Homo sapiens: one gene and its partners. The protein of the gene in region 3 purifies or fractionates together with the protein of the main gene of each other region. This does not show direct contact. Each region holds a gene or a part of one and is shown on either strand. Other genes may lie near its edges.

Region 1 (3,654 bases), on a different chromosome or scaffold from region 3:
TTCTTTAGGTTATTTGTTATCAAAGCGTGAAGGCCAAGCAGGGTCTCCAGAGAAACCGTTATCTGATCTGGGTCGTCTTTCCTACATGGCATATTGGAAAAGTGTAATATTGGAGTGCCTTTATCACCAAAATGACAAGCAGATCAGCATTAAGAAGTTAAGCAAGTTGACTGGAATCTGCCCTCAAGACATCACTTCCACACTCCACCACCTACGAATGCTGGACTTCCGTAGTGACCAGTGAGTATCACATCTTTTTGTATACCTTTGAAAGATAATTAGGTTGAAGTTTTTTGGATCAGCCAGTCAGATTATTGATGAAAGGGCATTAACTAATATAAATGATATACTTGGTGATAATGAGATATCATTTTCCTTTCTAGGATATTTTATTTGATTGACTATATATATGGTCTATATATAGTCTATATATATGCTTTTTAAACTGAATTGTTTTTCTGATACCCCTAATTTTTGGACCTAAGCTACTGAATCTTTCATCTTCTAGTATTGGGAGCTCTTTCACAATACAAGAAGTAACCACTCTAGAAACAGTCATTAAATAAAATGCCCATGTTAAATTTTCATATAAATGGCACAAAGTAAATATAGATTGAAAGGAAGAACAGACAGTTCACCCTTCACTAAAGTGGTCAGAAAAAGGTCACAAAGAAAGGAGGCATTTGAGCCAAATAAATGGAGAATAGGAAAGAGAGTGCAGAAGAGCAGCAGAACTTCTGGAGCGGGACGTGTGAGACAGCAGGCAGTGAAAACAGCCCGCGGCCACGGTAGAGAGCGAAGCATTTGTCCTGCTTCACACTCCTGGCCGTCTCATGTGGTGGCACATTTCTGCATTCCATCGTCCCAGGCAGGCTATCTTTGCAGCACCTATCATCTTACATGCTTCACCAGGGGTCTCATCTCCACATTCATTTTTATGTACACCTTGTACATTGTTGATTGCTATAAACTTTTCTCTGGTTCCAGATTTGTGATTATCCGCCGGGAAAAACTTATCCAGGATCACATGGCAAAGCTTCAGCTGAATTTGCGACCTGTAGATGTAGATCCAGAATGTTTGCGCTGGACTCCAGTCATAGTGTCCAACTCTGTGGTCTCAGAGGAGGAAGAAGAGGAGGCTGAGGAAGGAGAAAACGAAGAGCCACAGTGCCAGGAAAGAGAATTAGAGATCAGTGTAAGGGCATGAATAGTCTCTATTTTTGATGACAGAAGATATATTTTTGATTTCATGAGTATTTATAATAATGTATTATGATCATCTTTCACAGAAAAGTAAATTCACATTAGAATGTCAAGAGTTTTATTTCAGTGGTAGAGATTTCAAGAAGACTGGACCTGGTTTACTTAAGTATTTTTAAGCCTTGGACAATTAGGAGGAGACCATCAAATTTCTTATAATGTGTTACTTGTGAGAAAAATATTTGTTACCAGGGTGCCAAGAAGCAGCTCAGTTTTAAGCTGGATAGTAGTTGAGAAATCTGAATTGAATCCAAATCTGACAGTTTTTAAAAATGAAATGGAGGTTGGGTGTGGTGTTTCATGCCTGTAATCTCAGCGCTTTAGGAGGCCCAGGCGGGAGGATTGCTTGAGATTAGGAGTTCAGGACAACCAGGGAAATATAGTGAGACCCCATCTCTACAAAAAAAACCCAACAACAAAATGAAATGGAGATACATTTTCCTTAAATAGAATATTAAGTAACTATTGTAAACTTGTGTATGTTTTCTGATGGGGCACCAAAACATCCTGTGGACACACAGATCTCTTTAGCCGTTAAAGGGTTGCTGGTGAACTGTAGTGCATGTGTCATTGTCAGTATTTTTCTTCATGTGATGCATACTTTTATAGCTCTTTTTTTTAAGCAGTGCTTCATCCTTTCAACACCGGTATCCTCCTTTAATAAACATAAAAAATCCCATGCCTCTCTTTAGTGCAGTTTAATTTTTCAAAATGAAATTATTCAGAATAAAAGTAAATTTAAAAACTACATAAACTTTCTTTCATATTTCTCAAATGCCTCCTTCCTCTTGCCCATGTCTCAAGATCCTGTCTCCTCCACCCTGTTTACAAATTTTTATTTCTGAGAAATTTTATTAAACAATCTCATTTAACATTTAAAAGAACAATAGTATTCACTTTGCTTATTGAGGGTGGTACTGCAGAAAGATTCAGAACATAGGCTCTGGAGTCAGACTGCCAGGCTTTCTATCCCAGCATCTTCTCTTGCTCTTGCGTGACCTGGGGCAGATTACTTAAATTTTTTTCTACCCCACATGCCTCATTTGTAAAGTGGAGTTGTAGTGGTAATACTTCATATGATTGTTGGGGAGATTAAATAAATAATGCATATACAGAATTTAAAGCAGTGCTGAAACAGGAAATATCCATGTTAAATAACTGATCATTTTCTTTTTAAAGCTCAGTTTCCTTTTCTTCTCTCAATACTTAAAAGGTCAGAATAGGTAAATGTAAGCAAACAAGACTGAAAAATTAACCAGCATTGTTTTATTTTCTAAAATCAGGTGGGAAAGTCTGTGTCTCATGAGAACAAAGAACAAGATTCTTATTCAGTAGAAAGTGAAAAGAAACCAGAAGTTATGGCTCCAGTCAGTTCTACACGTTTGAGCAAACAAGTCCTTCCTCATGATAGTCTTCCTGCAAATAGCCAGCCATCTCGGAGGGGCCGCTGGGGGAGGAAGAACAGAAAAACCCAGGAACGTTTTGGTGATAAAGATTCTAAACTGCTCTTGGAAGAGACGTCTTCAGCTCCTCAGGAACAATATGGAGAATGTGGGGAGAAATCAGAAGCCACCCAGGAACAATACACTGAAAGTGAAGAACAGCTGGTGGCTTCTGAGGAGCAGCCAAGCCAGGACGGGAAACCTGACCTTCCCAAGAGAAGACTCAGTGAGGGGGTTGAGCCCTGGCGAGGACAGCTCAAGAAAAGCCCTGAGGCTCTGAAGTGCAGATTAACAGAAGGAAGTGAGAGGCTGCCCCGTCGCTACAGTGAGGGTGACAGGGCTGTCCTCAGGGGCTTCAGTGAGAGCAGCGAGGAGGAGGAGGAGCCGGAAAGCCCTCGGTCAAGCTCGCCACCAATTCTCACAAAGCCCACGCTGAAGCGAAAGGTAACGCATTTCTTTCCAGGTCTTCTCTTCCTCCAATTCCAGTTTATCTTACACCTTCTCGTTTTAGCTTACAGTTCTGAAAGAGTATAAGTTAGAAATTCCTAGTGCATTGCTTTATAAACCTTAAGCCTCTGTATATTGTAGCTCAAGATCTTCCCAGTGAACATTTGAGATGTGTGTGTGTGTTTGACTTCTTTGATTCATGGGAATTCACTTAGAAATCATAAGCTTATTTAAGGGCTTCACCTCCTGGGATGCAAACAAACTTTTTTTTAGCTTACTGGTTTGATGTTCAAATCATGACTTTTAGGGGCTTAAAGCCCTAAAATATCTTTAAAAGATATTTTTAAAGTATGTACAGATTAGAAGTGTTTATATTAGAAAAGGAGGCCAAAATATTACATAATTAATTGGAAAGTGAACATAGTGCTGCCCTATATTTTGGGGTACTCAGAGTACAGTAGCTCATCTTGGGTGCTATTGTTTTCTCTCTACTCTCCCCACTTCT
Region 2 (3,654 bases), on a different chromosome or scaffold from region 3:
ACCACAGGCACAGGCCACCACGCCTGGCTAGTTTTTGTACTTTTTTTTTTTTTTTTTTTAAACCATGACTCAGCCCTCAGGAGATCCTGAGAACATGTGCCCCTAATTTTTGTATTTTTTGAGATAGGGTCTTGCTCTGTCACCCAGGCTGGAGTGTAGTGGCACGATCATGGCTCACTGAAGCTTCTGCCTCCTGGGCTCAAGCGATCCTCCCTCCTCAGCCTCTTGAGCACCTGGGACTACAGGCATGAGCCACCACGTCCAGCTAATTTTTTTCTTTTTTAAGATGAGGTTTCACTATGTTATCCAGGCTGGTCTTGAACTCCTGGGTTCAAGGGATCCTCCAACCTCAGCTTCCCAAAGTACTGGGATTACAGGCATGAACCACTGCACCTGGCCCTCCTCTTCTAGTAATACTTTTAACAGGCATTGTCATCCAACTCCAGCTGAAAAATTAGTTACTTTCCTATGACTAGAGACCCCTGTTGTAATAAGGAAAACATCAATGTATAAAGGGAAGGAAATCCATTTATAAAATTTGTCATTTTTTGGTTACTTGAAAAATAATCAGAGCAGCAACTCAGATCTTGCTGGGTATCAATGGTAGACAGATTCTTGGCTAAGGAAGTTTAAATTTTCAGGACAAGTACTAAGCACTAAATGTTAACATTTCAGAATCGCATTGTTCACAGTGTTTATTTGAGAACTCATAAGTTGACTGATAACAAATCTCAGACATCGGCTTTCCAGTTTTTGACGCAGTATTAGATTTCTTGTGAAATTTTTAGCTTGAATTTAGCCACTAACTTCTTGTGTTTCCTAAGCTTAAGGAAAATGAAGAGGTGAAAAAAATAACATTTCCCCCTAACCATTGCTCGCCTTTCCTCCTCCTCTCTTCCAGATATTCCGAGTGGTGTGCATCTGTTTGGGTAATCCACCAGAGACATTCACCTGGGAATATCGAGACAAAGATAAAAATTATCAGAAAATTGGCCCCATAACACCCTTGGAGTTTTACAGGGAACATGTCAAGCCACTCTTCAATATGGAAGATAAGGTTGGTGAATGGCACTGGTAGTCACTGGCTGTTTACTTTCAAATGGCTGTTAACCACAGGGAATTGTATAAGATTCTTGGTTAGCATGTATGAGTATCAAACTAGACAGCAAACAAACATTTTTCCCCACTTCCTCTGAAGTATTTTATGCAGCTAATGAAGTTGGTGGTGCCAGGATTTATCAGCTTTTCCACAATGTTCCTCTTCAGAGACTTTTTAAACTGTAAGCCAGCAGTCATTTTAATTCCCACATGCGCCCCTGTATAGGACCAGAATCATTCTCAAGTGCAAAACAATGAAAGTGTGTTGGGTATTTCTTATCGTGGATTCAGAGCACTTTTGCACTGAGGTCCCCTCGGGGAACTCTCCTGTTGAAGGGAGTAATCTTAGTTTTTCCTGTTCCCTTTAGGTCTTCCTCATCTGCCTAGTAGGAGGATCAGAGCCTCTTCCTTTTATTGGCTTCTTGATCCTCTTCCAAGCAGATGCCTGTCTTGTAACTTGAGAACAGGGGCCTTGTGATTAGCTCTCCAATTTTTCTTACTCAGTGCATGTTATTTTTCAGAATGAGTTTTGAGGGCCGGGTGCGGTGGCTCATGCCTGTAATCCCAGCACACTGGGAGGCTGTGGTGAGTGGATCACCTGAGTTCGGGAGTTCGAGACCAGCCTGGCCAACATGGTGAAACTCCGTCTCTACTAAAAATACAAAAATTAGCCAGGCATGGTGGCGCACATCTGTAATCCCAGCTACTTGGGAGGCTGAAGCAGGAGAATCACTTGAACCTGGGAGGCGGAGGTTGCAGTGAGCCGAGATGGCGCCATTGCACTCCAGCCTGGGCGACAGAGTGAGATTCTGTCTCAAAAAAAAAAAAAAAAAAATTGCTTTTGGAGCAGTTCTTGCTAGTAGGAAAAACAGGTAGATGCACCTCCTAATTGTGTCTCTTACGCGAATTAGAATAAGCAAGGACCTCTCTCACATGTATTTTGCCACCTTGTGTTTCTTTGTTACTTAACAATGTGGCTGTAGTACTTAGCTTGTAGGCAGAGATGATGAGCTTGATGGAAACATGAACCTAGAGGAGAGCTGTGTGTTGCTTGACATTCCTGGTTTTGTGCCCTAATTAATGTGTTCTTGATCTTGATAGATTTGTTTAGTGAATGACCCTAGGCCCCAGCACAAGTACAACAAACTTTACACAGTGGAATACTTAAGCAATATGGTTGGAGGGAGAAAAACTCTATACAACAACCAGCCCATTGACTTCCTGAAAAAGATGGTTGCTGCCTCCATCAAAGATGGAGAGGTTGGTATTGTTTCTGTATTTTGCACATTGGGGTTAAAACATCTTTTACTTCTTTGGTATAATAGGAAGATGGGGTTTATGTTGACTTTCTTCCTCTTTCTTCTGTTTCTAGGCTGTGTGGTTTGGCTGTGATGTTGGAAAACACTTCAATAGCAAGCTGGGCCTCAGTGACATGAATCTGTGAGTGCAGGAAATTTAAAATGGAAAGTCATTTGTGGGTTGTTGCTGTTGGAGTGTGCTGTTGGTACAAAATGACTCTGCCGAGGTTCATCCAAAGATGAAGGTTGACCTAAGGGCGCGTCTCTTTCTTTGCATCCTTTAGAGTTTGAGGACTCATAGCAGAAACTCCACATACTTAAACACTCTAACCCAGGACATCAAAATCCCACTTTCTATCTGAGTGGAAATCGTTGGGCGTTCCTAAAAAGCCATCCTCTATGAGAAAGACACTTTAAAAAAATAATTGACTATTGCGGAAATGTGTTCAGTGCATTTGGGAGTGTAATGAAAGATTTTCCAGAGCCCCCGTTTGCTATGTTACTTTGGTAACTTTGTATTTTGTCATTGTGACAAGTGGGACTAATTTGCATGCATACTTTATAGCATTCCTCCTGGTCATTTATGACAATGAAGGTTAATTTGTAAACTAAATCATATAGGATTCCTTGACTGTTCACCATTCTCTATTTTAGGGTTACTTATAAATAGTTGTTACTTGTAGGAAGTTGAGTAAATATCTTGATAGAGAAATCTGCTAAAAAAAAGAATTAATGAGGTTTAAAAAATTTTTGAAAACAGGTACATGCAACTCCCAAGTGTGTCTCTCACACTAACTAGAACATGCAAGGACCTCTCTCACATGTATTTTGCCTTTTGTTTCTTTGTATTTAACAATGTGAGTGTAGTGCTTATGCAAAAATATTCCCCAATATTTTGGACATTATTTATTTAAATTTTAATCAGCAGTGATTTAAATGAATTCAGAAACTGGTTGGTTCCACCAGCTCAAAAGAGATCAGTTTTCTAAGAAGTTACTTCAAACGCTTTTTTCATTATTTTTTAAAGTTTTCTTGCCTAAATGACAATGTAAACTTGTCAGCTTCTGATGTGGAGAATTTATGTTTAATCATCTCCTTTTTTTCCTGCATACTCTTGTGACACATAGAGAATGGACTCCCACTGAGAGACTAAGTTCTGCATGTTCCATATTCTTTCTGAAGAGCTACAGCTAGAGCCTTATTTATTTGGAGCTGTTGAGCCCCTTCAGTTTCTTCTGAATTCCTTTTACAACCAAAA
Region 3 (3,654 bases):
TAGGCCGAGTTCCAGCCAAGGAAAGGGCAAAAAGCAAATTAAAATCCGACAATGAGAATGACGGGTATGTCCCCGATGTGGAAATGAGTGACTCAGAGAGTGAGGCATCAGAAAAGAAATGTATACACACCAGCAGCACTATCAGCAGAAGGACAGACATTATCAGGAGAAGCATCTTGGCTTCTTGATGCAACAGAGATGATGCGGAAGCCCTTTGGGCTCGTCATTGGGTTTGCTAGAGGAGAGCTCTGATGTGGGGGAGAAGCAGAAACCCATTAATCCTGAGCTACACAAACACATTTACTTGCAATTCAGATTAATTTTTTTCCAGAGTCATTTTTAAATCATTTTTGTGAGAAGTTTGTGTTATTTGCAACTTGTTGAGGAAACAGAAGAGTAGATTGTAACCATAAGACACTGCTAAGACTAGAACCCGAACTGAACACTAAAATAAAAATGAAATGTTTTAAAGAAGGCAAGGCTTAAATAAGCCTCATGAATTTTTATAGCCCTCTGCATTCTTCCCAAAGCACAAACTCATGGTTACCTGAATATAGGGAACCAGATATGGTTCTTGAGAAACCCTCATGGTACCATTCACAGCCCATAAAGTTTATTTTCTAGGACTGTGGTAGATCTTGAAATCATATTTATATTTGGCCCTCAAGGCTATTTTTGTTGCATTATAGCATATAGGCAGCAGCTCTGAAGCTTCAGTAACACTAAGAAATTTATGTGTAAATATAGCAGTCAGGGAAGAGAATTTTAAAAAAGGTCATTATTGAAGAAGCTGAGGGGACAGGGTAGAGCTGCTGCAATATGGAGATTTAGGGTAATATGGCAAGGTCCTGCTGCTTGAAGCCTGTGAGTGGGTTGTGGATATGGGACTGGTGGAGAGTGAGACTGTTAGGAAAGTTGTATCTATGAATAAGGGCAGTTGAAGTAGAATTTTTACCAGTCCACTTGACCTTCTTCTTCCCTAACCACTGGCTCTTGAGCCAGCTTGGGATTTCCCTGGCCATTGCCAATACCTGGCCATCTGGCTTCCAATAGTACAGTGGCTACTCAAGTTCAAGCGAAGAACTTCCAGACTCTGGTGACTGTTACTTCCCAGAGCCAACCACTAGTGCATATGTTAGGGAATCTGGGCTTCCAACATGAATGGATTCCTTAAGAAAAAGGAAAAAAAAAAAAAAAAGAAAAAAAGAAAAAAAAAAGAAAAAAGAAAAAAAGAGAAAAAAGCGAAATAGGTTATATTTTAAAAACAATAGAAAGGCAATAAGTTGCGATAAGCTCTTACTATTGACCAAGGTTATACAGGAAAGAGACTGAAGTGTACCCTTGAATAGGTTTTCTGTAGTCAGAGTTCTAAACTCTAATTTGTAACTTGGACTTTCTAATTGCAAATGGCAATAACTATTAAGTTATCAGCAATAATAAATTTAGCATTAAATTTGAGTACAATGTTTTGTTTTTGCACTCCCCATAGTGCGTATGTATTAAGACAGTGGATAGTGTTTAGGTCCTGTTAATTTTCTTTGGAATTCAATGTGGTTGTGAATCAAACTTAAGGAAGGAACGTTTAAATAGCAATGAGATACAGAATTATGGGCCTTTGGAACAAGCCCGACTTCCCCTAAATTCTCCTTAGTTTGTTAATACCAGTATTCAGATTCCTGATTCATTTATACATCTGTTTCCATATGGCAGGGACATTATGATACTTAATGAATAATGCTTTGAGGAGTTCTGCAGTTAACTTTCAAGTCTTCCAGATGATTGTCAACAACAAAAAAGGCTTATTGAATCCCATCTTGCTATGCAAGTTTTATCAGATGATCAAATAGTAGATCTGATACATCCCCATTGTATGTACGACATTTTCAAACCAAGTCTTAACTTTTCAAGGACATTTTAGTAGCTAATTCAGGGGAGGGGGAAGAATGATGCAGGTTTTTAGATTGACTGACTATTTTTGAGTTATGGGGCTCATTTTGAAAGACTGCTGTCCAGATCAGCTTGTTGCTGCAGATAATAGAAGGTTCTTATGAATCCAAGTTGTATATTCACTTGTAGGATAATTTAAAAATTAGATTTTTTTTGCATATGAGCAAAAACCTTTTGCTGGATACAGGAGAAGGTTGGACTTTATCTACAGTTATCTTTTGATTACAGCAACAGCTCTGGGTGAGAGTAGAATTTATAGAGGGATAATTTGTCAAGCCATAGAAAGAAAATCTAAATTAATCTAGTAAGTGTATGACCTCTCACCATTTTAAGAGGTATCAGATTCATTTGCACTATTAGGAATGCTAGTTTTGTGCAAAAATAATGCCTTACCTGTTTTTTCCCCACATTTAGGTTGAAAAGCTTTCAAATGTTCCAAGTTATGCTGAACCAAAAAAAACAAAACAAAAACAAAACAAAAAATATTAAAAAAAACCCACACAAAAACAAAACACACAAAAATAAAAAGCCCACACTTTTTATTCCTGCTTCGAAATGCAAATGGATAGAGCACGGTTTCTCTGACAGTATAATGATAGCTTTGTGAGTTAGTTTCATGTCATGCTGGGAACTCTCTATGAGGTGGCCATAAGCAGCAACCAGCCCAAACACCCACTTGCGTTCTATTAGTATGGAACCATTTGCATTTGTTTTTTTTAAGCTTTATCTTTCCTTGTGCATCCTGACCAAGAAATATCTTTGATTATGATTAATGTATTATGTCAAAATGTAGGCTAGTTAAACTTTTGTAAAGTTGCCTGGAATGTCATTTGTTAGGTTATAAACACAAGATCTAAATGAAGGGTTTTATGTGTTGTGTACAAATCTTATTTTGAAATGGACAAACTTGTCATTACATTTGTAACCTTGTACAGAGGATTTTTCACTATGTGCCTAGCTTGGTGTCCATTCAGCTAAAATTGAAAAAAAAAAAAAGGTGCATGAAGAGTTAAAAATCAAATTAAAGTATATGTAGAGATGACTATTTTATATTACATGACCCAATCCTGTATTTATTTCTACCCCCTTTTTGAAAGTATTTATAAAACTAGTTGAGGACAGCTGTATTTTTTTGTTGAACTATTTAGTAGAATTGTGCCTTTTTGTCTGTATGTGAATAAATGCTGTACATTTTGCAATACATTTTAAGTGTCTTTTGAAATCTGCTTTTGCTAAATATTTAAAGGTATATATGACTTAGCAGTCCTGAATCAGTTGTTTACTGTCTTCCACTTTAAATCAGGAATGAGAACTGTAGAGAACATATCAAATTTGTGCAGAGCACAGATTCACTGGGCTGCTTTCTGGCTCAACTCTGATGGCGAGACTGAAAAATAACGGTTTGAGTTTAGTCTTCCCCACCTGGAGTTCTTTCCAGAATACAGTTTTGGATCTGAAAACAGAATCGTTGAAACAACGTAGACTTCAGGGTCAGAGAGAACTGTATTTAAAGGCTAAACTATAGTTTACCAGGCACATGACATTGGCCAAGTCACTTAACCGTTTTAAGCCTCAGTTTTCCCAGAAAGAGGATAACATCTTAGTAACTTAGATATTGAAGTAGTTGTGATTATTTAAAGCAAGTCCATTGAGCACCTTACAGAGAGCATATATTAGGCATTTAGTAAGTGGTAGGCTATTATTTTT

What was found.
Region 1: the proteins of JADE1 (region 3) and KAT6A purify together in Homo sapiens (affinity purification with mass spectrometry, with the first as the bait; one large-scale study listed by BioGRID). This does not show direct contact.
Region 2: the proteins of JADE1 (region 3) and BLMH purify together in Homo sapiens (affinity purification with mass spectrometry; one large-scale study listed by BioGRID and IntAct). This does not show direct contact.

The regions. Positions count from the first base shown.
Region 1 is NC_000008.11:41,940,334-41,943,987, reverse strand, and holds part of KAT6A (histone acetyltransferase KAT6A), read left to right. Parts: intron 1-8; coding exon 9-240; intron 241-987; coding exon 988-1,195; coding exon of another isoform or gene 1,196-1,207; exon of another isoform or gene 1,208-1,939; intron 1,940-2,543; coding exon 2,544-3,146; intron 3,147-3,654. UniProt on the Homo sapiens protein: Histone acetyltransferase that acetylates lysine residues in histone H3 and histone H4 (in vitro). Component of the MOZ/MORF complex which has a histone H3 acetyltransferase activity. May act as a transcriptional coactivator for RUNX1 and RUNX2.
Region 2 is NC_000017.11:30,271,445-30,275,098, reverse strand, and holds part of BLMH (bleomycin hydrolase), read left to right. Parts: intron 1-901; coding exon 902-1,057; intron 1,058-2,199; coding exon 2,200-2,358; intron 2,359-2,470; coding exon 2,471-2,538; intron 2,539-3,654. UniProt on the Homo sapiens protein: The normal physiological role of BLM hydrolase is unknown, but it catalyzes the inactivation of the antitumor drug BLM (a glycopeptide) by hydrolyzing the carboxamide bond of its B-aminoalaninamide moiety thus protecting normal and malignant cells from BLM toxicity.
Region 3 is NC_000004.12:128,872,075-128,875,728, forward strand, and holds the end of JADE1 (protein Jade-1), read left to right. Parts: coding exon 1-188; 3' UTR 189-3,150; downstream 3,151-3,654.